Linked DNA regions of Homo sapiens. The protein of the gene in region 1 interacts with the protein of each later gene in a pairwise test. Each region holds a gene or a part of one and is shown in the gene's direction. Other genes may lie near its edges. The genes, in order: WT1, KRTAP10-4, KPNA5, CCDC33, CCDC136 and GLIS2.

The links.
Region 2: the proteins of WT1 (region 1) and KRTAP10-4 interact in a two-hybrid assay, tested with the Homo sapiens proteins (one large-scale study listed by BioGRID and IntAct).
Region 3: the proteins of WT1 (region 1) and KPNA5 interact in a two-hybrid assay, tested with the Homo sapiens proteins (one large-scale study listed by BioGRID and IntAct).
Region 4: the proteins of WT1 (region 1) and CCDC33 interact in a two-hybrid assay, tested with the Homo sapiens proteins (one large-scale study listed by BioGRID and IntAct).
Region 5: the proteins of WT1 (region 1) and CCDC136 interact in a two-hybrid assay, tested with the Homo sapiens proteins (one large-scale study listed by BioGRID and IntAct).
Region 6: the proteins of WT1 (region 1) and GLIS2 come close enough for resonance energy transfer, tested with the Homo sapiens proteins (one large-scale study listed by BioGRID).

The regions. Positions count from the first base shown.
Region 1 is NC_000011.10:32,394,040-32,397,539, reverse strand, and holds part of WT1 (Wilms tumor protein), read left to right. Parts: intron 1-1,132; coding exon 1,133-1,283; intron 1,284-3,500. UniProt on the Homo sapiens protein: Transcription factor that plays an important role in cellular development and cell survival. Recognizes and binds to the DNA sequence 5'-GCG(T/G)GGGCG-3'. Regulates the expression of numerous target genes, including EPO.
Region 2 is NC_000021.9:44,572,372-44,575,871, forward strand, and holds KRTAP10-4 (keratin-associated protein 10-4), read left to right. Parts: upstream 1-1,357; 5' UTR 1,358-1,387; coding exon 1,388-2,593; 3' UTR 2,594-3,000; downstream 3,001-3,500. UniProt on the Homo sapiens protein: In the hair cortex, hair keratin intermediate filaments are embedded in an interfilamentous matrix, consisting of hair keratin-associated proteins (KRTAP), which are essential for the formation of a rigid and resistant hair shaft through their extensive disulfide bond cross-linking with abundant cysteine residues of hair keratins.
Region 3 is NC_000006.12:116,729,711-116,733,210, forward strand, and holds part of KPNA5 (importin subunit alpha-6), read left to right. Parts: coding exon 1-31; intron 32-2,425; coding exon 2,426-2,613; 3' UTR 2,614-3,500. UniProt on the Homo sapiens protein: Functions in nuclear protein import as an adapter protein for nuclear receptor KPNB1. Binds specifically and directly to substrates containing either a simple or bipartite NLS motif.
Region 4 is NC_000015.10:74,277,826-74,281,325, forward strand, and holds part of CCDC33 (coiled-coil domain-containing protein 33), read left to right. Parts: intron 1-1,293; exon of another isoform or gene 1,294-1,467; intron 1,468-2,137; coding exon 2,138-2,267; intron 2,268-2,842; coding exon 2,843-2,976; intron 2,977-3,500.
Region 5 is NC_000007.14:128,812,468-128,815,967, forward strand, and holds part of CCDC136 (coiled-coil domain-containing protein 136), read left to right. Parts: intron 1-240; coding exon 241-462; intron 463-2,170; coding exon 2,171-2,452; intron 2,453-3,146; coding exon 3,147-3,464; intron 3,465-3,500. UniProt on the Homo sapiens protein: May play a role in acrosome formation in spermatogenesis and in fertilization.
Region 6 is NC_000016.10:4,322,567-4,326,066, forward strand, and holds part of GLIS2 (zinc finger protein GLIS2), read left to right. Parts: intron 1-2,081; exon of another isoform or gene 2,082-2,209; intron 2,210-2,703; exon of another isoform or gene 2,704-2,788; intron 2,789-3,500. UniProt on the Homo sapiens protein: Can act either as a transcriptional repressor or as a transcriptional activator, depending on the cell context. Acts as a repressor of the Hedgehog signaling pathway. Represses the Hedgehog-dependent expression of Wnt4.

The DNA.
Region 1 (3,500 bases):
GAGACCAGCCTGAGCAACATAGGGAGACCCTATCTCTACCAAAAAAAAAAAAAAAAATTAGCTGGGCATGATGACTCTCACCTGTTGTCCCAGCTGTTCAGGAGGCTGAAGTGGGAGGATTACTTAAGCTGGTGAGGTCGAGGCTGCAGGAGCCCCGATCGTGCCACTGCACTCCAGCCTGGACAACAGAATAAGATCCTGTCTTAAGAACAAACAAAACCAAAACATGGATGCACTCTTGTGTCAGCATCTCACCGCCTTTGGGGTTGATTTACTCATCTATAAAGGAATGAGGAGAATTTAGTGGCCACTCAGGCACTTGCTCAGCTCCCATTTATGACTCCCTGACCCCAAGAAGAGGAAGGGGAGCTTGCCTCTTTGTTTTCCTCCAGTTCTTATTCTTGGAAGACTGACAACACACACACTGCACTTCCACAAGATAAAGGGGAGCAACAGATGCCCTGCAAAGGACGTGTGCAGAGCACAGAAGGCAGATGGATTCCAGTGCTTTCTGGCCTCACTATTAAAGGTTGTGCTGGCTTCACCATGGCCTTCTGGTGGGTTTTGCTTCCTTTCACAGATGGGATCCCCAAATCCAGGGGCTTCTTCTTCCTTGTTATTTACTTATACTTGGACGATCTGGTCAGTTAGGGGCTCATTCATTATCCCACTTTTTTCTAATAAGGATGTCCCCACCCATTGCAGACTGGCTCTAGGTCATGTGGTCATGACTCCAAGTGGGAGGGAGTAGTTAGACTTTGGGACTTTGGACTTGCAGACATCACTACCTCAAGAGGAGAAGCTGAGAGATAGAATGGATTGGGAGCTCTTCCAGGTACCAGCATTTCTTTTGCAGAGGCTCTGGGACAGCCATTTCATGTAGGTTTCATCTCAACAGCCACTTCTGGTTGCTCAGTAGTGATGATCTTAGAGCACTGCATTGTAGAATGTCCTGATCTAGCATCCATTACTGATGTCTGCCATGGGGATCTGGAGTGTGAATGGGAGTGGTTTTAGGTCTGCACCTGCCACCCCTTCTTTGGATATACTCCAGTGCTCACTCTCCCTCAAGACCTACGTGAATGTTCACATGTGGCTTAAAGCCTCCCTTCCTCTTACTCTCTGCCTGCAGGATGTGCGACGTGTGCCTGGAGTAGCCCCGACTCTTGTACGGTCGGCATCTGAGACCAGTGAGAAACGCCCCTTCATGTGTGCTTACCCAGGCTGCAATAAGAGATATTTTAAGCTGTCCCACTTACAGATGCACAGCAGGAAGCACACTGGTAAGTGTGCCCGCTGTCCAGTCTTGGGCAAACATGGTTCAAGAGCTCCTTTTCCAGGCTCTCACACTGCTAAGGACCCAGGTTATTTCCAGGATGGAAAGTAAGCACTGCTTTGAAAGGTCTGATCCAGGTGTTGTAAAGAGGCTGTGGGGCCATTTTGCATTCTGATTATCTATCCTTTATTACAGAGGTCAGTAAACTGTCTTCCAGAAAGGCAGAGCAGAGTGGTAGAGAGAAAGTGCCACAGAATTAAAGAGACCTGTGTAGGAATCGTGTTGGTGTTAGAATACTATTAGCATTTCTAAGGAGAGAGGAGCTGGCCTGGGAATATAGTCATCAGATGGTTTTAGGAGGTCGATGGGCAAGATCATTGTGAAATTTTAGAAGAGATGGTCCAAAGAAAAACTTACCTGCTTGGGTCAGTAATAATCAACTAGACAGGAAGGGGAAAATTGATTGTTAGTTTGATTTTTTAGTGATCACTTAAAAAAAAAAGGTCAGTCATGGGGGCTCACGCCTGTAATCCCAGCACTTTGGGAGGCCGAAGTGGGTGGATCACCCAAGGTCAGGAGTTGGAGACCAGCCTGGCCAACAAGGTGAAACCCCGTCTCTACTAAAAATACAAAAATGAGCCGGGTGTGGTGGCACGCACCTGTACTTGGGAGGCTGGGGCAGGAGAATTGCTTGAACCTAGGAGGCAGAGGTTGCAGTGAGCTGAGATCTTACCACTGTACTCCAGCCTGGGCGACAGAGCAAGACTCTGCCAAAAAAAAAAAAAAGGAGAGAGAGAGATGATGATTTTTTATCTTTGAAGATACGCCAATGAAACTGGATTTTCCCCCAGGTCAGAGAGGCTGCTTCTGGGAAACAGAGAACTGGCATTGTTTGGTGTTGGCCACCTTGAATGTGGACAGCCATGTCACAGAACGTTTACTCTGGGCCTTGTGGGCACTAGGTGGGAGTGTGGGAGTGTGGTAAAACCCAGGTTTTCCTACAGAGGAGCTACTGCTGCCTTTTCCACAATCGAAGAACAGCATTATTATAGGATCACTGTTGCAACTGTGTTATTACTGCTGATTTTGCTCTTGGGAAGCTGGAGAAAAAAGTGAGCTGCATTCAGATTTCCTTGGACCATTGAAATTTGCTAATTCACTGTGTCCAGAGGATGCAATTCTGGTGTCAATCTGAGTTTGCACTCAGTGGGCCACAGACTTTGAGGCTAAAAAGGAGGGGACCAGTGGCATGTTATGTTTTTACACATTTCCCCAAATGGGATCATTTGAAAAGTGACTGTCAAGGTTATAAGGAAAACGAGAAAGTAAAGTCCTGCCTGAAAAATGCAAGGGAATAAATGAAGGCAATATGGTTGTAGAAACTTTTAGTGAGAGAGAAGCACTTAGAATGCAGTGAGGGTTAGACAACTGTGTGAAGGGAAGGCAGTGAACAAGACAGCCAAAACCCCAGACCCACTGGAGCCTTTAAGAAACTCTTCCTTGCAGAAGATGAGGGCAGGTTGGTATTTAACAATCCTACAGTCCCCCTTGAAAGAGAGCAATATTTTCTTATTTATTTATAACAACAGTACAGACTGTTATATTAAGTACTTTTTGGGTGTCAGGCTCTCTACATGTATATTTCATTTAATCCTCACTCACAAAACATTTATGAAGAGTATAGGATATAGCAGAAAGAGGACTCAAACTCCTTCTTTTTAACTGCAGGTTATAATCCTCCTTCTCAAAGAGTTCCTGGTTTGTTTGGGAGCTAGGATATAAAGAAATGAAAAGTGACTGAGAGAGTACATGATCATGTACTAAATCAGAGACAGGAGGTACCGAGGGGTTTGGAGGGTATCAGTTTGAACTAAGGTCATCCGAGAAAGTTTCTCAGAGGAAGAACAGCTTGGGTTAGCCAGTGGAGGCTGGTAGTTTGGGCAGAGAAAGTGATAGATGAGCAGAAGCTCAAAGGCAGGGGAAGGAAATCAGACTCAATAGGGGTAACATCTTCTCCAGCTCACAGAGGTGAAACATAAGGCACCAACCTGGATACAAATACAAAGAAAGGGGCCAGGTGCAGTGGCTCACACCTGTAATCCCAGTATGTTGGGAGGCGTAGGCGGGAGGATTGCTTAAGGGGTTCAAGACCAGCCTGGGCAATATAGTGAGACCCTGTCTCTAAAAAAAATATTTTTAAAAATTTAGCCAAGTGTGCTGGTGT
Region 2 (3,500 bases), on another chromosome or scaffold:
GAACCAACCTGCGGTGGTGTCGGGAAGCTGGCAAAGGGCGATGTGAACCCCGCTTTTCAGCCACTATTCCCTAAAACCATTCCACGAGGTCAAGCCACACCTCACAAGCAAAGGCTGCTGAGTGCCCAGTGCTGGGCACCTGCTGTCCTGTGCTACCCTCGCCACCCCCCATGCTCCACCTGCCCCAGGCCCAAGTCCACAAGAAACACTTCTGCCGTGCTTGCCTTCCCATCCCGGGTTCTGCTCCCGTGCCCACGTCCTCATCCCAGGTTCTGCCATTGTGTCTGCTTGCTGTGGATTGAATTGTGTCCCTCAAAAGGTGCCGAAGTCCTGACCGCTGGTACATGTGAATGTGACCCTATATGGAAATAGGGTCTTTGTAGGTGATCAAGTTAAGAGGAGGCTGTTAGGATAGGCCCTACTGCAATAATGCTTTGTATCCTTATAAAAAGGGGAGATTTGGACACACACACACACACACACACACACACACACACACACACACACACACACACGGAGAAGCTGTGTGAAGATAAAGGCAGAGCTCAGGTGAGGCCACTGTAAGCCAAGGACCCCAAAGATAGCAGCAGCCCACAGGAGTGAGGGGAGCGGGGTGAGACAGTGCCCCTCGCAGCCTCAGAAGGAACCCATGCTGTCCACTGTCCACACCTCGATCTCAGACTTCTGGCTTCCAAAACCATGAGACACGGAATTTCTGTTGTGTGACCAGCCAGTTTGTGGTACTGTTTGTCATGGCAGCCCAAGGAAAAGAATACATTACAGCATACAAACCATGACTCACATTATCTTTACTTAGAACCCAAACAAACCTCTCTCCCTAAGCTTTCAATCACAGAGGCACATGATCTTGTTCAGCAGCCTAGAAAACCAAGGCCCAGCGGAGCCACCCGTAGGCACCCACTCCCCATAGCCTGGCACACACACACGGCAGAGCCACCCACAGGCACCCACTCCTCATAGTCCAGCACACACACGGCAGAGCCACCCGCAGGCACCCACTCCCCATAGCCCGGCACACACGTGGACCATGCCACCCTCCACGTGCGCCTGGGGAGCAAAGCAGCACAGCCTGAACTGCCCCTCAGCTCTTCCTCCTGAGTCTAAAACACGCACATGCGCCCCAGGCCAATTCCAAGTTTTGTAAACTGAGCAACAGCTCTTGGGAAACAAAAACACAGCTACTGTTTATTCTCCTGGAGCTGGCTGTACACCCCAACAAGGAAGGGAGGGCTTGCTGAGCCTCCTGTCTGGACAACATGCACCAAGGAGGAGTATAAAAGCCCCACAAACCCGAGCACCTCACTCACTCGCTCACCCACTCCCTCCCATCTCCCCCAGCTCAACCCCCAGCACAGCAGCATCCACCATGTCCGTCTGCTCCAGCGACCTGAGCTACAGCAGCCGCGTCTGCCTTCCTGGTTCCTGTGACTCTTGCTCCGACTCCTGGCAGGTGGACGACTGCCCAGAGAGCTGCTGCGAGCCCCCCTGCTGCGCCCCCAGCTGCTGCGCCCCGGCCCCCTGCCTGAGCCTGGTCTGCACCCCAGTGAGCCGTGTGTCCAGCCCCTGCTGCCCAGTGACCTGTGAGCCCAGCCCCTGCCAATCAGGCTGCACCAGCTCCTGCACGCCCTCGTGCTGCCAGCAGTCTAGCTGCCAGCTGGCTTGCTGTGCCTCCTCCCCCTGCCAGCAGGCCTGCTGCGTGCCCGTCTGCTGCAAGACTGTCTGCTGCAAGCCTGTGTGCTGTGTGCCCGTCTGCTGTGGGGATTCTTCATGCTGCCAGCAGTCTAGCTGCCAGTCAGCTTGCTGCACCTCCTCCCCCTGCCAGCAGGCCTGCTGTGTGCCCATCTGCTGCAAGCCTGTCTGCTCTGGGATTTCCTCTTCGTGCTGCCAGCAGTCTAGCTGTGTGAGCTGTGTGTCCAGCCCCTGCTGCCAGGCGGTCTGTGAGCCCAGCCCCTGCCAATCAGGCTGCATCAGCTCCTGCACGCCCTCGTGCTGCCAGCAGTCTAGCTGCCAGCCGGCTTGCTGCACCTCCTCCTCCTGCCAGCAGGCCTGCTGCGTGCCCGTCTGCTGCAAGACTGTCTGCTGCAAGCCTGTGTGCTCTGAGGATTCCTCTTCATGCTGCCAGCAGTCTAGCTGCCAGCCGGCTTGCTGCACCTCCTCTCCCTGCCAGCAGGCTTGCTGTGTGCCTGTCTGCTGCAAGCCTGTGTGCTGCAAGCCTGTCTGCTCTGTGCCCATCTGCTCTGGGGCTTCCTCTCTGTGCTGCCAGCAGTCTAGCTGCCAGCCAGCTTGCTGCACCTCCTCCCAAAGCCAGCAGGGCTGCTGCGTGCCCGTCTGCTGCAAGCCTGTGAGCTGTGTGCCTGTTTGCTCTGGGGCTTCCTCTTCATGCTGCCAGCAATCTAGCTGCCAGCCAGCTTGCTGCACCACCTCCTGCTGCAGACCCTCCTCCTCCGTGTCCCTCCTCTGCCGCCCCGTGTGCAGGCCCGCCTGCTGCGTGCCCGTCCCTTCCTGCTGTGCTCCCACCTCCTCCTGCCAACCCAGCTGCTGCCGCCCAGCCTCCTGCGTGTCCCTCCTCTGACGCCCCGTGTGCTCCCGCCCAGCCTGCTGAGGCCTCCGCTCAGGTCAGAAGCCCAGCTGCTGATGGACACGCCCCCCAGTGCCAGCCAGGCTCAGGTCCCACCTGAAAGCTGATAGTCGCGTCCTGAATTGCTCCTGCACTTTGACCATTTCCTGGTGTCTGCTGTTGAGCTGGACAATGGAAGAACTGAAAGTCTATACTCAATGCTGCAGCCCTCTTGCGGGGGGAGGGGGGCGCTTCTAGAAAGTTCCCATGGCAGTGGCCTCCCCTCCATATCTCCCACCTCTCATGAGGGTCAGTTCAGCCTTGACCCGTGAGGTCTCTGTCCTCCTGGCTCAGAGCCGCAGAGCCTTCTTTGGACGCCCTCAAGCTGACCAATAAAGGCCCTGAGACTGCAATGGCGCTGACACCCAGGTGTGTTGATTAATGCCTTGGCTGGAGCTCACGGCCATGGTTTTCTCCTTTGTGCACAACCCTCTGCTGTCCTTCAGGCCCCTGAGTGTTTTCCTGTGCCCAGGGGCGTGTGGTTCCCAGGGGTCCAGGCTAGACGGACATGGACGCGGGGAGCCTTGCAGCCCTTTGGCCATTTCGGGCCCTTGGGTTTGTCCCTAACCCTCCTGTGTTGTTAGTCGTGTCATAGTTCTTTTTGCTGATTTGCTTTTTAAATTATCCTTCTGCTGCACAATACTTGTCAAATAAGAATGGTGTCTTCTAGCGCCATGCTTGCCCAGAGTGTGTCCAAATGCCTCCCTAGCTTCAAAATCAGTAGTCTTCATCGACATTGCCTAAAACCTCTTGTGCCCTGTGCAGACATCACTGGCATGGTGGGAGGAACACAGACAGGCGATTGGAATTGGGTCTCTGTCGCTTCGCTTCCACCCTGTGTGAGCAGAATCATCTCCTCGAC
Region 3 (3,500 bases), on another chromosome or scaffold:
CCATACTGTGCTCTCATTGAAGAAGCATATGGTAAGCAATCAGTTAAAAATTTGCAATTATAGTCAGTTCTTATATCTGTCATACTTTCCCCTTCCAGTTCCCTACAATTTTTTTGTTGTAAAAGCAGTATGTATTTTTTTAAGTTTTAAAATGTCACCCGTAATTTTATTACCCTAACAATTTATTTTTATTATTTACCTTTTTTTAACATTGTCTGTATGCACAAATACTTTACATTGACTTAATTGTATTGTATGTATAGTTTTATGTTCTACTTTTTAACATTTTGGAGAAATTTTACATTTCTACATAATTTTTATTATAATGGCCACATAATGTTATGTATATACTATATATATATAAAAATATGTAATTTTTTTTTTTTTTTTTTTTGAGACACAGTTTTACTCCGTCTCCCAGGCTGGAGTGCGGTGGTGTGGTCTTGGCTCACTGAAACCTCCACCTCCCATGTTCAAGCAATTCATGTGCCTCAGCTTCCTGAGTAGCTGGGATTACAGGTGCATGCCACCATGCCCGGCTGATTTTTGTATTTTTAGTAGAGACGGGGTCTCTCCATGTTGGCTAGACTGGTCTCGAGCTCCTGGCCTCAAGTGATCCAGCCACCTCAACCTCCCAAAGTGCTGGAATTACAGATATGAGCCACCATGTCTGGCCATAATGCTACATATTGAGTCAAGTTTTAGCCATTTGAATGGAAGTTTAACCATAACCTGTTGTTGACCATTAGTTTGTTCCCAGTTTATCACTTTATGTATACCAAAATAAGCATCTTTCTGTGTATATGTTTATTTCTTTTATGGAATTAATATCTGGGGATAAATTTTCAGGAATACAGTTGCTGAGTCTTAGGGCACTGACTTCTTTTTAAGCTTTTGATGTCTTCTCATTTTGCTTTCCAAAGGCCTGTTGCTGACAGTGTCACTGGCATTGTATGAATCTATTCTACAACCTCATACTTGTTTTGTTTATTTTGTGGACTCAGCAGATGTAAAATAGTACACCAAGTTGCTTTTATGTACATTTTTTGGTTTATTTCCTATAGATAGTAGTATGTATTTTTCATGAGTTAGTCTGTGTCCTTATCCAAATTGCATATTTATTGTACTTTGTCTGGTTATCTATTTGACTTTTTTTTTTGGTAAAAATTTGAATTTTATTTTATAGTAGTTTATTTTGATATGACTTTTTCCTCGGTCTATTTTTTTTCAGATCATCCATTGAACACATTCTTTTATTTTAATAAAACATACCATGTTCATTTATGTTTAAATAACTCAGTCTAATTTTCTATTCTTTCAAAGTTTACAAAGTCATTGCCTCCACAGAGATTTGATGAAAATTAATTTTTTTATTTGCCAAGTTTTAAAAATTAGGTTCTTAAAACATTTAATCATATGGAATTTATTTTAGATAAGGCATGAATCTAAATTGATTTTCTTTTATTTGCATTAAATATTCACTTTTCTGTATTAAGTCCTCTTACATTGTATGGGTGATTCAGACTTTTATTTTTGATTCTTAAAGCCCATGATATCACTTTGTCTTTCTTTCAAATTATATAACATCACTGGATAAGACATTACATGAATACAAGATATTAGTCACTGATTTAAGAATATTGTCTTACTACAGTCATTATTTTGACCCCGAGTCAGACTAGGGTTTGAGCTATTCTGTGATTGTGTATAGATAGGACTGCTTTGCTGCTTTTTTTTCTGTGATAATCTGATTGAAGTCGTTTATCTGTAATTAAATGAAATGTATTTTCAGCACTACCCAGACTTACGTGTAGAGCTTTTTCTGATAAGCAGTAAAATCGATTGCTATAGATTCTTCTCATCTTTTCAAAATGAGGCCTTTCAGTTTCAATTGTAGATTGTAATTCTTTTAAACCGCACAACAGCCATATGTTTTTTATTGTATGGGTTTGGAAATTTTACACATTTATTTCATAGTGATACTCTCTGGCTCAGCGTGTTTTATTTTCTTCATTTAATTTGTTTTGTTGCTTTCCCTTTTTGGGCTTTGTTAATTACTCTAGAAAGGACCTGTGGAGTTAATCTAAAACTGCCATTTTACAGTTGAGAAACAGAAGAACTAAACTTACCTGGCCAAGATCACACACCTAGCAGGGTGGTGTCTGTGATCTTACTCCCAGGCCTATGGTCCTTCTTCGTATGACACTGCTACATACTCTCATTCTTGAAGTATAAATCGTAAGTGATGGCTATCGGTATGTGCAACAGTTAGATTAAAATAGTCCCGTTGCCAGTGAGGTGATAGATGATGTTCACTTATTATTTTGATTTAAACATATACTGAAATTGTAGTAACAGTTTGTTTATATATATATATATATATATATATATATATATATATATATATATATACTTTGTATAACAGGTCTGGATAAAATTGAGTTTTTGCAAAGCCATGAAAATCAGGAAATTTACCAGAAGGCATTTGATCTGATTGAACATTACTTTGGTGTAGAAGAAGATGACCCCAGCATTGTACCTCAGGTGGATGAAAACCAACAACAGTTTATATTTCAGCAGCAGGAAGCACCAATGGATGGATTTCAACTTTAACTTACTGGAGGAAAAAAAATTTATGGCTAAAAAGGGTAGCTTCAGGTAACTCCTCTTTGTTGCCAATGTAAGAATGTTTGTTTTTTTACATAGAACAGTAAAGAGAATTTGATGCACTTTTAGAAAGCAAAATGAAACAAAAATTTCCATTCAGATGCAACCTTTCATTGTAGTTTGTTGTTGTTTTAGTTTTGTTGTTGTGCCTGTATTTATATCTTCTATTGTTTGGATTTTTGTATCTATTTGTGAATAATTGAATATGCAATTATTTAGTAATTTAAGCTTGAAAAGGAGAATTTTGGTGAAGCATTACTTAGTAATTCTGAATTTTTTCAAGCATTCTTGGAAACTGCACATTAGCAGTAAACCTATTGATAATTGCATTTTGGCAGTAAGTCTTACACATCTAATCTCTACTAAATCTACCTCTATCTTGAAGCAGAAATAAAAACAAAAAAGCTTCAGAAGCATGAAATAATGCAAATGCTAAATTAGAATGTGAAAATATTTATTACCTTAAATTATACATATCACTGTGCTGTAGGTTATACTTTGCAAAAAATTGCAACAGAAAACCTATAAAATTTATTTATAAAACAGAAGAAATATTATACTGATAATCCATTAAAATGTGGCAATTGTGAAGGGAGAAGCTGTTTTTCATGTTGAACACATTAAAAAGATTACTTTATAAAATGTTTAAATATTTCTGTTTTTAACATATAAGTGCTATGTATATTAGTATATTTTGTATTTCAACCAAATATGCTACCATTTTTGAAATAGTGTTTTATTGTTTTTCACTCATTGTTTTAAAGAGCATCATGACAGAGATGTCATCATGAATCTAAAGTAGTGCTGCATATCTAAAATAATAACTAATTATT
Region 4 (3,500 bases), on another chromosome or scaffold:
CCATTTAGACACATGAATAGGTCCCAGAAAGGGCAGCTAGCGTCTACTAAATAACCCTCTTCCAGGGTAGGAGCAAGGTATGGACGGCAGGGGACTGAGTCACAGGTGCCCCAATGCCTGGCAGACAGTCCCAGCCATGTGGACCCTCCTGCACCCAGGAGAATGGGGTGACTCTGGGAGGGACATGGTTTGGGGATCAATCTTGAAAGATCACTCCCAAGCCCCACAGAAGTCAGAACCAACTTCTCTCACCGGACCTGTTGGCCAAGCTCCCATAAGAAGTGGGATGTTCCCATCATTGCAGTCTCTGTTCAGGTGTCCAGGGCACCCTAGCCCTGCAGTGACTGCAACCCATCTCCCCAGGGGCAGGGGCAGACACAGCTGAGCCTTGGGCTGGGCCTGGACAAACCAGGCCCATTAGTGTGACCGTCATCAGCACCCTGCCACTGTGGGGAAGTGGACCTACACTGATATTTCATGATCCTGCATCAATAACTCCTGGAGCCGCAGTGCATTTGTGCTGACCTTTTCGAGCAATGACTGATTCCTGTGGGGGAGCAGGAGGTGGGAGCGGCTGCTACTGTTGCTGACAGCCCCTGGCTGGGGAACAGAGGCAAGGCAGCCACTTGGTGGGTCTGTAGCAACGACCCGCAGCCCCGCCCTGTGCTGGGACCCTGCAGGGCTGCCTGCTGGGAGTTATGGGCCGATGGCCATCTCCCATCTCCCACCTTCTGGCCTTGGCAGATGCTGGGCCTCCCCCTGGAGTCTCTCCTCATTTCAGGCGTCCTCTGCACAGGGTGTGCTCAGTGCCACTCCACATTTTTGATTGTGCTGTTTTCCCATCCTGAAGACCTTTATCCCTCTCTTCACCCAGCCAGACCTTCCTTCAGAGCCTTTCTCTGGTTCTGCTTCCTTTAAGGAGGCTTTTCTGACCACCCATGGGAATATTTCATATAGCTCTCTTATTGGGCAGTGCTACAGTTAATACTGTCTTGTTTCATTGTTTAAATCATACCCATGTGTGTGCCCTAACTGCTGACCTAGGGTGCCATCAAGTCCCCCGAGTGCCCACTGGCCCACACTGCGGGCACACGGAGCCTCTGTAGTCTGCAGAGATGTCTTGGCCTCTGCAAGGGGCTGGGGAAACTGTGTGGGAAAGAGAGGGGCTGGTGACACAGACAGAGGTCATGTCTAACTTGGCATCTGTGACACCACCAGCCATGGGTGTGAACACAGATACAACACTTTAGGAAAACAGTTTACCAATAATGAATGAGGTGTCCTAAAATACACATGTCCTATAACCCAGCAATTCCATTTTAGGTAGTTGTACTAAGGAAGTAATTTGCGACATGAAGATATGTAGCAGAGAACGTTCAATGCAGTGTTATTACAGGGAAAAATGGGAAGGAAGAAATCAGGGCACTTGGACATGAACTTCATATCCTGAAGTTACTCAAGTCATGGGTAATGAGCTTTCTGTGACTTTGGATCTGCTTAGGTTTTACTGGCAAATGAAAAATGCAGGATGCTAGAATGGTGATTATACACAAAATATACACAGAAAAAAACTAGGAAGAAGCACAGTTTTATGAATTATTGTGTTTATCATAGGAACACAGGAGCTGTTTTTCTTCTTCCTATTTTTCTGCATTTTCCTAAATGTATTTATTAGGTGTGTGCTGCATTTATTTGTTTATTTATTTATTTATTTATTTTATTTATTTAGAGACGGAGTTTCGCTCTGTCACCCAGGCTGGAGTACAGTGGCGCAATCTCATCTCAGGGCAACCTCTGCCCCCCCGGGTTCAAGCAGTTCTCCTGCCTCAGCCTCCTGGGTAGCTGGGATTACAGGAGTCCCCCACCACACCTAGCTAATTTTTGTATTTTTAGTAGAGACAGGGTTTTGCCATGTTGGCCAGGCTGGTCTTGAACTCCTGACCTCAAGTGATCCACTTGCCTTGGCCTCCCGAAGTGCTGGAATTACAGGCGTGAGCCACTGTGCCCAGCCAGCTTGCTTTTATAGTTGGGAGAAACATTTGTGACAAATCTAGATACACAAAACCAAATATCTGTGTATGCCTTGATTTGGGAGAAGCTGTGGCCCCCACCACCTGCTCCTACCCTCTCCCTCCAGCTGTCCAAGCCTGGGGGACCCCCAGAGCAGCCCCTGTGGAATCAGTCCTTCCTCTTCCAAGGCCGAGATGGAGCTACCAGCTTCTCAGAAGACACAGCCCTGGTGCTGGAGTACTACTCCTCAACTTCAAGTACGTGACCCCTGGTGCCTCGCCAGGGCAGCCATGCCTCAGGAGATCTGTATTATGAAAGGGTGTTCAGACCATCCCACCTCTGCCTCCCACAGGGATGGATGGTTCCCAGGTGTCCAGGCGGCTTCCTAATGCAGGCAGAGGAGAGCTGGCTGCGTTCCTTGTCCACAGGCCAGGACACGTGGGCCTGTCCCATACTAGGTCTTGGCCCCAAGCTTTGTTTTATTGCACCCATCAGTGATGGGGGAGGGCTGGAGCCCTCGGAACTCACAGAGAGGGGTGAGGGAGATGGGCTTCAGAGACCAGCTGATCCACAGTTTTCTGCACTGTGGGATTGAAGCCCCCAAAGGGTAGAGATGAGGCTGATGTATATAAATTCCCAGACACACAGAGTATGTTTAGAGTTGGCTTTGAGTTCACAAAGCCCTGAAGATGAGAAGAGGATGTATGTGCAGGGAAAGGCCAGGAGGCAGGAAAGCAGGCAGCGGGAGACAGGAGGACTGGATGTCAGGTATTAAAGGATGGGGCCGAGGTGGGGGCTTTGGCAGGAGCCCTAGTTGATCCTTCCCCCACAGTGAAAGGCAGCCAGCCGTGGACCCTCAACCAGCCCCTGGGCATCTCTGTGTTGCCGCTAAAGAGCCGTTTGTACCAGAAGATGCTGACAGGGAAAGGCTTGGACGGGCTTCACGTGGAGCGGCTCCCCATCATGGTGAGCCCCCTGCCCTGAACTGGGCCCCTAGCGTGCCCACCTGGCCCCACCCTGCCTCACCCTGCCCCACCTCACCACACCTCCATAGGAGAATTTGGCTTCTCCAGAAGCTTCTGTCAAGGCACCCACCAGGGAAGTCACCCAGTCTAGAAGTGAGGAGCTCCCTGGAACCCCAGAAGCCAGTCTTGCCTCTGGGACTATGACGAACCAAGCCAGAGAAATTGCCCCTGAGCAACTTGGGAGACAAGTACAGGGTGACCCTGTGAGACAGTGCAAGAGTTCAGGCTTTCAGCCAGCCAGACCCTGATTTGAACCACAGTTCAAATCCTCACTGTGGAAATTCAGGCACATTACTGAACCACAAGAGTCCTCGTCTGTAACACAGGAGAAGCATGCCAAGTACACAATCTCTGTGTATAACAAGAGAGTTCAGAGCTCAGGCTCTAGAGCCAGACTGTCTGGGTCCAAATTCTGGTTCCACCACATACCAGCTAACATGACCATGGGAAAACTACTGAAAGTGT
Region 5 (3,500 bases), on another chromosome or scaffold:
CCTGGTCTCCCGCTCAGCCCTCTCATAGAGAGAATCCCCCATCTGGACAGAGGCCCATAAGATTCAGTCCGTTTCCTCACCACAGCCACGATGCTCTTTATGGGGGTAAATATAGTAATCCCCCGCGGGCATCTCTGGATCCTGGTGGCCATTGTTTGGTATCCAGGGAAGGGCCCAGCAGAGTAGGGCGGAGCTTAGGTGCTCCTCAGGGTGCTATTGTTGCTCCCCCACCCCCCGCAGCGCTTTGAGGAAATGGTTGTGAAAGTGCTGATCAAGCTGCAGGCGGTGCAGGCCATGTACCAGATAAGCCAGGAGGAACACAGCCAGCTGCAAGAGCAGATGGAAAAGTTACTGGCCAAGCAGAAAGACCTGAAGGAAGAGCTGGATGCCTGTGAAAGGGAGTTCAAGGAGTGCATGGAATGCCTTGAAAAGCCCATGGCCCCCCAGAACGACAAGAATGAGGTAACCACTGTCAGGGAGGCAGGGTTTCCTCTGGCAGCCCCTGGAGCCATAGAGGTCATGGCCACTTCATAGAGGCTAAAGAGAGGGACAAAGCAGGGAGAATATGCACCTCAGAGGCTGGGCAGTCTGCTCCATCCCTGATGACATTTCCCAAGTGCCCGTGGAGCTGGGGTTTACTAGTCATCAGGACTTCTCTCATCGAATGATTTCTCTCTTTCTCCCTTTGCCACTTCTGTTCTCTTTTGCTTTGTGTTCTAGACCACTTCTGTAGAACTGTATTTTTGCATTTGCCAATCTTCTTTCATCATTTTGTGTGCATTTGCCTTGTCTCCCGGTGCACCAACTAGGAGCACCAACTAGATTGCAAGCAGCTCAAGGACAGGGACATGTCTCCTTTTGGATCGCTCACAATGCCAAGAAGAGTGCTCTGCACCCCCTAGGAATGGGACAGAAGTCTTGTCTCTGGCCAGGGGTTCACGGTCCAGTGGGGGTCTCTTTGTATACACACGGGAGAGATTCAGAGAGCAGCGAACACATGGGTCCAGATTGGCTAGTATTGGTACCTACTGAGGGGATGGTTGTGTGCTGCCATCAGCCAAGGAAGACAAAACCCGAGATCAGGGAGCAGGATGTGACTTGCCTCTGTTTCCAGGGTGAGGTGCAGGAGCCCAGTACACACTTCAGGAGTGTACAACACAGTTCTTTAAGTAATTGTTCCTGTTAGAGAGATGGGTTGGATGAAGTAGGAGTTCCCATAAAAAGAATTCTAGGCCAGGTGCGGTGGCTCACCCCTGTAATCTCAGCACTTTGGGAGGCCGAGGCGGGTGGATCACTTGAGGTCAGGAGTTTGAGACCAGCCTGGCCAACTTGGAGAAACCCCATCTCTACTAAAAATACACAAAATTAGCTGGGCATGGTGGCGCATGCCTGTAATGCCAGCTACTCAAGAGGCTGAGGCAGGAAAACCGCTTGAATCCAGGAGGCGGAGGTTGCGGTGAGCCAAGATCATGCCATTGCACTCCAGCCTGGGCAACAAGAGTGAAACTCTTGTCTCAAAAAAAAGAATTATATAATAAATCCCTGAGGTTCAGAATTGGTAGCAGCCCTATTGTTATTCCCCAGTCACAGTAGAAAACACCATTTAAATCATTGTTTTGACCTTCTTTTTTTTTTTTGAGACAGAGTCTTGCTCTGTCACCAGGCTGGAGTGCAGTGGCACGATCTCAGCTTCCTGCAACCTCCGCCTCCTGGGTTCAAGTGATTCTCCTGTTTCAGCTTCCCAAGTTTCTGGGACTACAGGCGCGCTCCAATAAGCCCAGCGAATGTTTGTATTTTTAGTAGACATGGGGTTTCACCATGTTGGCCAGGCTGGTCTCGAACTCCTGACCTCAAGTGATCTGCCCACCTCAGCCTCTTGAAGTGCTGGGATTACACTGGATGGCAAGTGAGCCGCTGCGCCCTGCCGTTTTTTTCATCTTATTAGATGGACATCATCAGGTGCCTCAAGTTAGGAGAAGCTATTTGTAAAACTATTTGAGAGGCTCATTTTCCACCGTTGAATATTTTCTTTATTGTCTACTTCCTATGGGCTTTAACAGGGAGATTTCTGAGACAGTGACCCCCAAGCAGGGCTGAGTTTGGTTGCGTGGTCAGCCAACTGGTTGCATAACCAGCCAACTCTGGGTAACTGGCCCTCCACTACCAACAGATCAAAGAACTGCAGACCAAGCTGCGGGAGCTGCAGCTGCAATACCAGGCTAGCATGGATGAGCAGGGGCGGCTTCTGGTAGTGCAGGAGCAGCTGGAGGGGCAGCTGCAGTGCTGCCAGGAGGAGCTCCGCCAGCTCAGGGAGAAGAGGCCTTCTGTTGTCAAAGAAGCCCGGGGGAAGAATGCTAATAAGAACATGAACAAGAATGCCAATGGGGTTAAAATGAAAAAGGTGACCAAGCCATGCTCGGATACTTCTGAGAGCGACCTTGAGACCAGAAAGGTGAGTAGTAACCTTGGTAGCCAGATAAGCAGAAAGGAGGAGGAGATCCTGGGAAGAAGCATTGCCTCCACAACCCTTTCAACCAGGCAAGGGATTTGTAGAGAAGCTTCTGGGATCTCTGAAGTGTCTACAGTGGTTCCCATCTTAATGGAAAGTGGGTGCTCCCTTTTCCTGTGAAGTTATGGGGAGAGTGGAACACAGACAACTCACATCGGGAGGTGCAGCCCCAAAGGACCACAGCCCCTAGGCTGGACAACTCCTTCAGTTTGCCCAGCCCCATTTGTTGGGGCTCCTGTTCTTCCTGGGTTACATGCCCAAGAGAAGAACCAAATAGATGAAGAGGGAGGAATTTGTTCAAAGTAGTTATGTACTAATAAGTGAAAGAGGATTGGGTAAAAGAAGAGTCACTGTAGGGGTGGGAAGCAACAATTTAGGTGCAGAGCCCAAGACTCTTTAGTTGTGGTAGCTGTTTGAAATGGCTTAATGGCCAACAGACATAGTGGCCCTGAGAGGTGAGGTGTGATGCCCTCTACATATGCTCAGGGGATTGGCTCACAGTCCCAGAGCACCGGGCCACACCCTTGCACTCTGACATGCTGGAAGTCATGTTTCCTGGAGCTAGTACAGCATTGTCATGAGATTAGGAGCTTCACAGGTAACGCAGCCGCCATCCTGCCCTACTCCCACCCCACAGAGTCTGGAGGTAGTGCTGTACTACAAGGCCAGCCAGAGGAAATTAGATGGACTAGCAAAAGAGGAGGAAAAGAAAGAGGAGATGGAGGAGGAAAAAAAGCAAGTGAAAGAGGAAGCAAAGGAGCAGTGTGGGGATGAGCTAGTTGCTGAGCCAGCAGATCCTGAGGAAGCTAAATCCACAGAAGATCAGGAGGAAAATGAAGAGGACAAAGAGGAAGAGGAGAAGGAAGAAGACAGTGAAGAGGAGGAGGATGACGCCGACTCTTCCCTTGAAAGTCCCGAAGAAAATAACCCCCTCAGACTTTCCGAGAGCAAAAAGGTAACCAGAGCCAAAGCCTAGATCAAGTGGGAAGTG
Region 6 (3,500 bases), on another chromosome or scaffold:
CACCCCATATCCATGAGGCTGACCCGGATCTGTGCCCAACCCCCTGCAGGAGCAGCCCCCCCCCTACACTGTTTCTCCCACCCCACCTTGGTCGGGGCACCCTCAAGGTCCGGTTCGATCTAGCAGGGCCTGGCGTTGGAATGCATGAATGCGTGGTTGGAGAACCGAGGCAGGAGGGCAGGCCAAGGTCCACCGCCCGCCTTACCCACTCCTGCTCTCGGAGTTGGCGGGTGCCGTTCCCAGTGGACCTGGTACCTGGCCCCAGGCAGGGGAGGCGTGGGCCACGGGCCTGCCCCGACCCCCCAGGACTTAGGAGCTCCTTGTGGGATCTGCCTGCAGCCAGGCGTGGCTTGGGAGGCGCGGTGTTTCCTTCGCTCTGGGGACCCGGCCTCATCCCTGCTCTCCCCCAGAAGCCAAGGCTCCTGAGTCCTGGCCCCGACACTGGGGCAAGGGGTTACTGTGATGTCCTGTGTGTGCCACATTTGTGCACAGGTGTCTGTACATCCGGGGGTGCTGTGGGTGCCTGCTCATGTCCTGTGCTACACTGGCCCATCCCTTTGCTGGCCTCAGATAGCTCTGGCTGGGTCTGCTGAGAATGGCAGTGCCGCCTGGCAGGGCCTGGGCTGTCTGTGCCCCAGCCTTGCTGGGCGTGCATCCCTGTCTCGCTCCCTGGTGCCAGCCCCTCCCAGGGATTTGGGTGGCAGGGCCCAGTGCTCTGGTCCCCTCCCCTCCCAGCCCGGGTGGGTGGGCAGGTGTGGGGGCTGCGGGGCGGGCTTTCCTCTGGCTGGGGCCCAGGTGCAGGCGGTGATCATAGCTCCAAGCACCCCCCCAAAGCTGGGCAGACAGGAAAATACCAGACATAGTTGTGCAAAGGTGCAGCAGCGGGCAGGCAGCGGGGGGGTGGAGGCCACTGCAGCAGGGGCCCGGAGCCACCAGGATGGGGAGGCCTCTGTGCCAGGCCGGCCCTGCAGCTGGACTGCCATGGCCATCTGTGTGAGTGTGCGTGTGTGTGCCGGGGCTCCCGGAGCCCGGTGTCACCCTCCCTGCTGGCGTTGGAGAAGGAAGTGCCTCTGGTGGGGCATCTCCTAGGAAGCCCGGGCTGGTGCAGGCCAGGGAAGCCCTCCGGCCCGTCTTCCAGCTTCAGCTCTGCCTGAATTATCTGGGTGACCTTGGCAGGCCCAAGTTGCTGTGCAGGGAACCCCCAGCCTGGGGCCGGAAACAAGAATCCTTTAGGTTACCAGTAGCTGGCAGCTTCTTTATGGCAGGCATGAGGACAAGGCCCTCCCTTGCAAGATGCCCTGAGTCCCAGGGACCATTGCCGTGGTGTCTGTTACCTACAAGGAAACCAAGGCTCAGAGACAGCAGGGCCTTTCTGAGTTCCCACAGCCAGGGGTGGCACAGGGGGCTGTAACCAGGCAGCCTGGCCCTGGGGCACACTCTGTGAACACGCAGAAAAAAGATCCCTGGCACATCCCATCTTCAGGTGCTTTCCCGAGGACCCCACGGCAGAGGGCAGAGGTCAGCCCTGGCTGGGTCACCTCGGACCCCTTGTGTTCCCACCCCGGGAGGGGGTCTGCCCTCCCAAAAGGTCCGGGGGTGCTGGCTGAGTGCCCCGTCTTGGGAGGGGGAGGGGCTGCCTACTGAGCCAAAGGTTCCCAGGGACGGTGAATCCCCCACTCTTCCAGGAAGTGCCGCCTGCCCTGGCCCCTCTCCTGGGATCTGCTGGGCCAGGCCTCAGGATAAGCTCCTCCCCCTCCAGTCCTGGGAGGAGGCCTGTCTGCGGCCAGCTCCTTCCAGGGTTGATCAGGCCTTCCCGGGGCCTTGTAGTGCTCTTTCTTTGATGCAGTTGGGCTCTGGAAGGTGGTTAGGGCCAGCTGTGGTCACTCCCCAGGATTGAAGAGGCCTGAGGTTCTTTGAGGGGCATAGGCTTGTTTAGGGTGCACGCTGGCTGGCAGGTGGCAGAGCCCAGGTTCTCCTGGTTCAGGGTGAGACTGCAGTGGCATAGAGGGGATGGCCAGTCCCCACTCAGCTGCCCTCACAGCGGTAGATGGGCCAAAGGCTATGGACTCATGCACACTGGCGACGATTCATTCAGCACGTTTTATTAAGCACCTACTATGTGCCAGGCACTGTTCTCCGTGCTGAACGTTACGGACGAAGGAGAAGCACTCAATAGTGATTGGATGTGCAGCACTGCATTGGTTTCTCCCTGAAACCCAACATGGGGGTCCTATATAATCCCATTTGGGATGAGGGGGATGAGGCGCAGACTGAAGAGACACGCAAAGGGAGTAGCAGAGCCGGGTGGGGCCCCAGATTTCGAGTCCGGTTCTGTTGCCTGGTCAGGAAGGGGGGCCCTGAGAGGACGAGCCCTCCTGCCTGGGGCCCCCAGCAGGCCCTGCCCCTGCCCGCCAGCCCCTGCTGCTGGGCGGCCAAGGAGGGTGGAGCTCTTGGCCAGAGCAGGGAGCCGCAGCTGGTTCCCAGGAATCTGGGGCTGTGGGGCCGTTTGCTTTGGCAGCAGATCTGCCCTCGGCTCTCCAAGCCTCCTGGTGGGCCCCCCACCCCAGCCAGCCCCTCCAGCGCCCACCCACTGCCTGCTCTGCTATCCCTCCTAGCCCCACAAGTCCCTGGGCGGGGAGGGGGTACCAAGCCTGAGCCCCTGACATAGGAAGGGCCAATAGTGAACATGGCTTCTGGACTTACCTGGGGTTGAAACCCAGCTCTGCCACGGACAAGCTGTGGGACCTTGGATGGGTCACTTCACTCCCCTGAGCCTCAGTTTTTGCATCTGTAAAATGGGGATGAAACAGCACCTGCCTTCACAGTACCCGCACCTGGCTATGGGTACTGTCCTCATGCTGCTTGCCCGTGGCTTCTGGTTGTGGGTTTGCCACCTACTTGTGCAGCCTGGGCTGGATGCCTCCCCCTTCAGCCCTCAGTTTCCCCATCTGTAAGACCATACTGCTGAAGTGATGGTTCCAGTAATAGACTCAGGGACACCCACAGACCAGGGTTTCTCTGACTGGTTCAGGAGTGACCAGGGACTCACTTCCTCTTTCTGTTAAATTAGAAGATGACGGGCTGGGCGTGGTGGCTCCTGCCTGTAATCCTAGCACTTTGGGAGGCAGAGACAGGAGGATGGCTTGAGTCCAGGAGATCGAGACCAGCCTGGATGACACAGGGAGACCCCCCCATCTCTGCAAAATAAAAAATTTAAAAATGAGCTGGGTGTGGTGGTGGTGCACCTGTGGTCCTAGCTGCTCTGCAGGCTGAGGCAGGAGGATCTCTTGAGCCTCGGCGGCAGTTAGCCATGACCACGCCACTGCAGTCCAGCCTGGGAGACAGAGCAAGACTCTGTGTCTTAAAAAAAAAAAAAAAAAAAAAAAAAAAGGCCAGACTTGGTGGCTCACGCCTGTAATCCCAGCACTTTGGGAGGCCGAGGTGGGCGGATCACGAGGTCAGGATATCGAGACCATCCTGGCTAACACGGTGAAACCCTA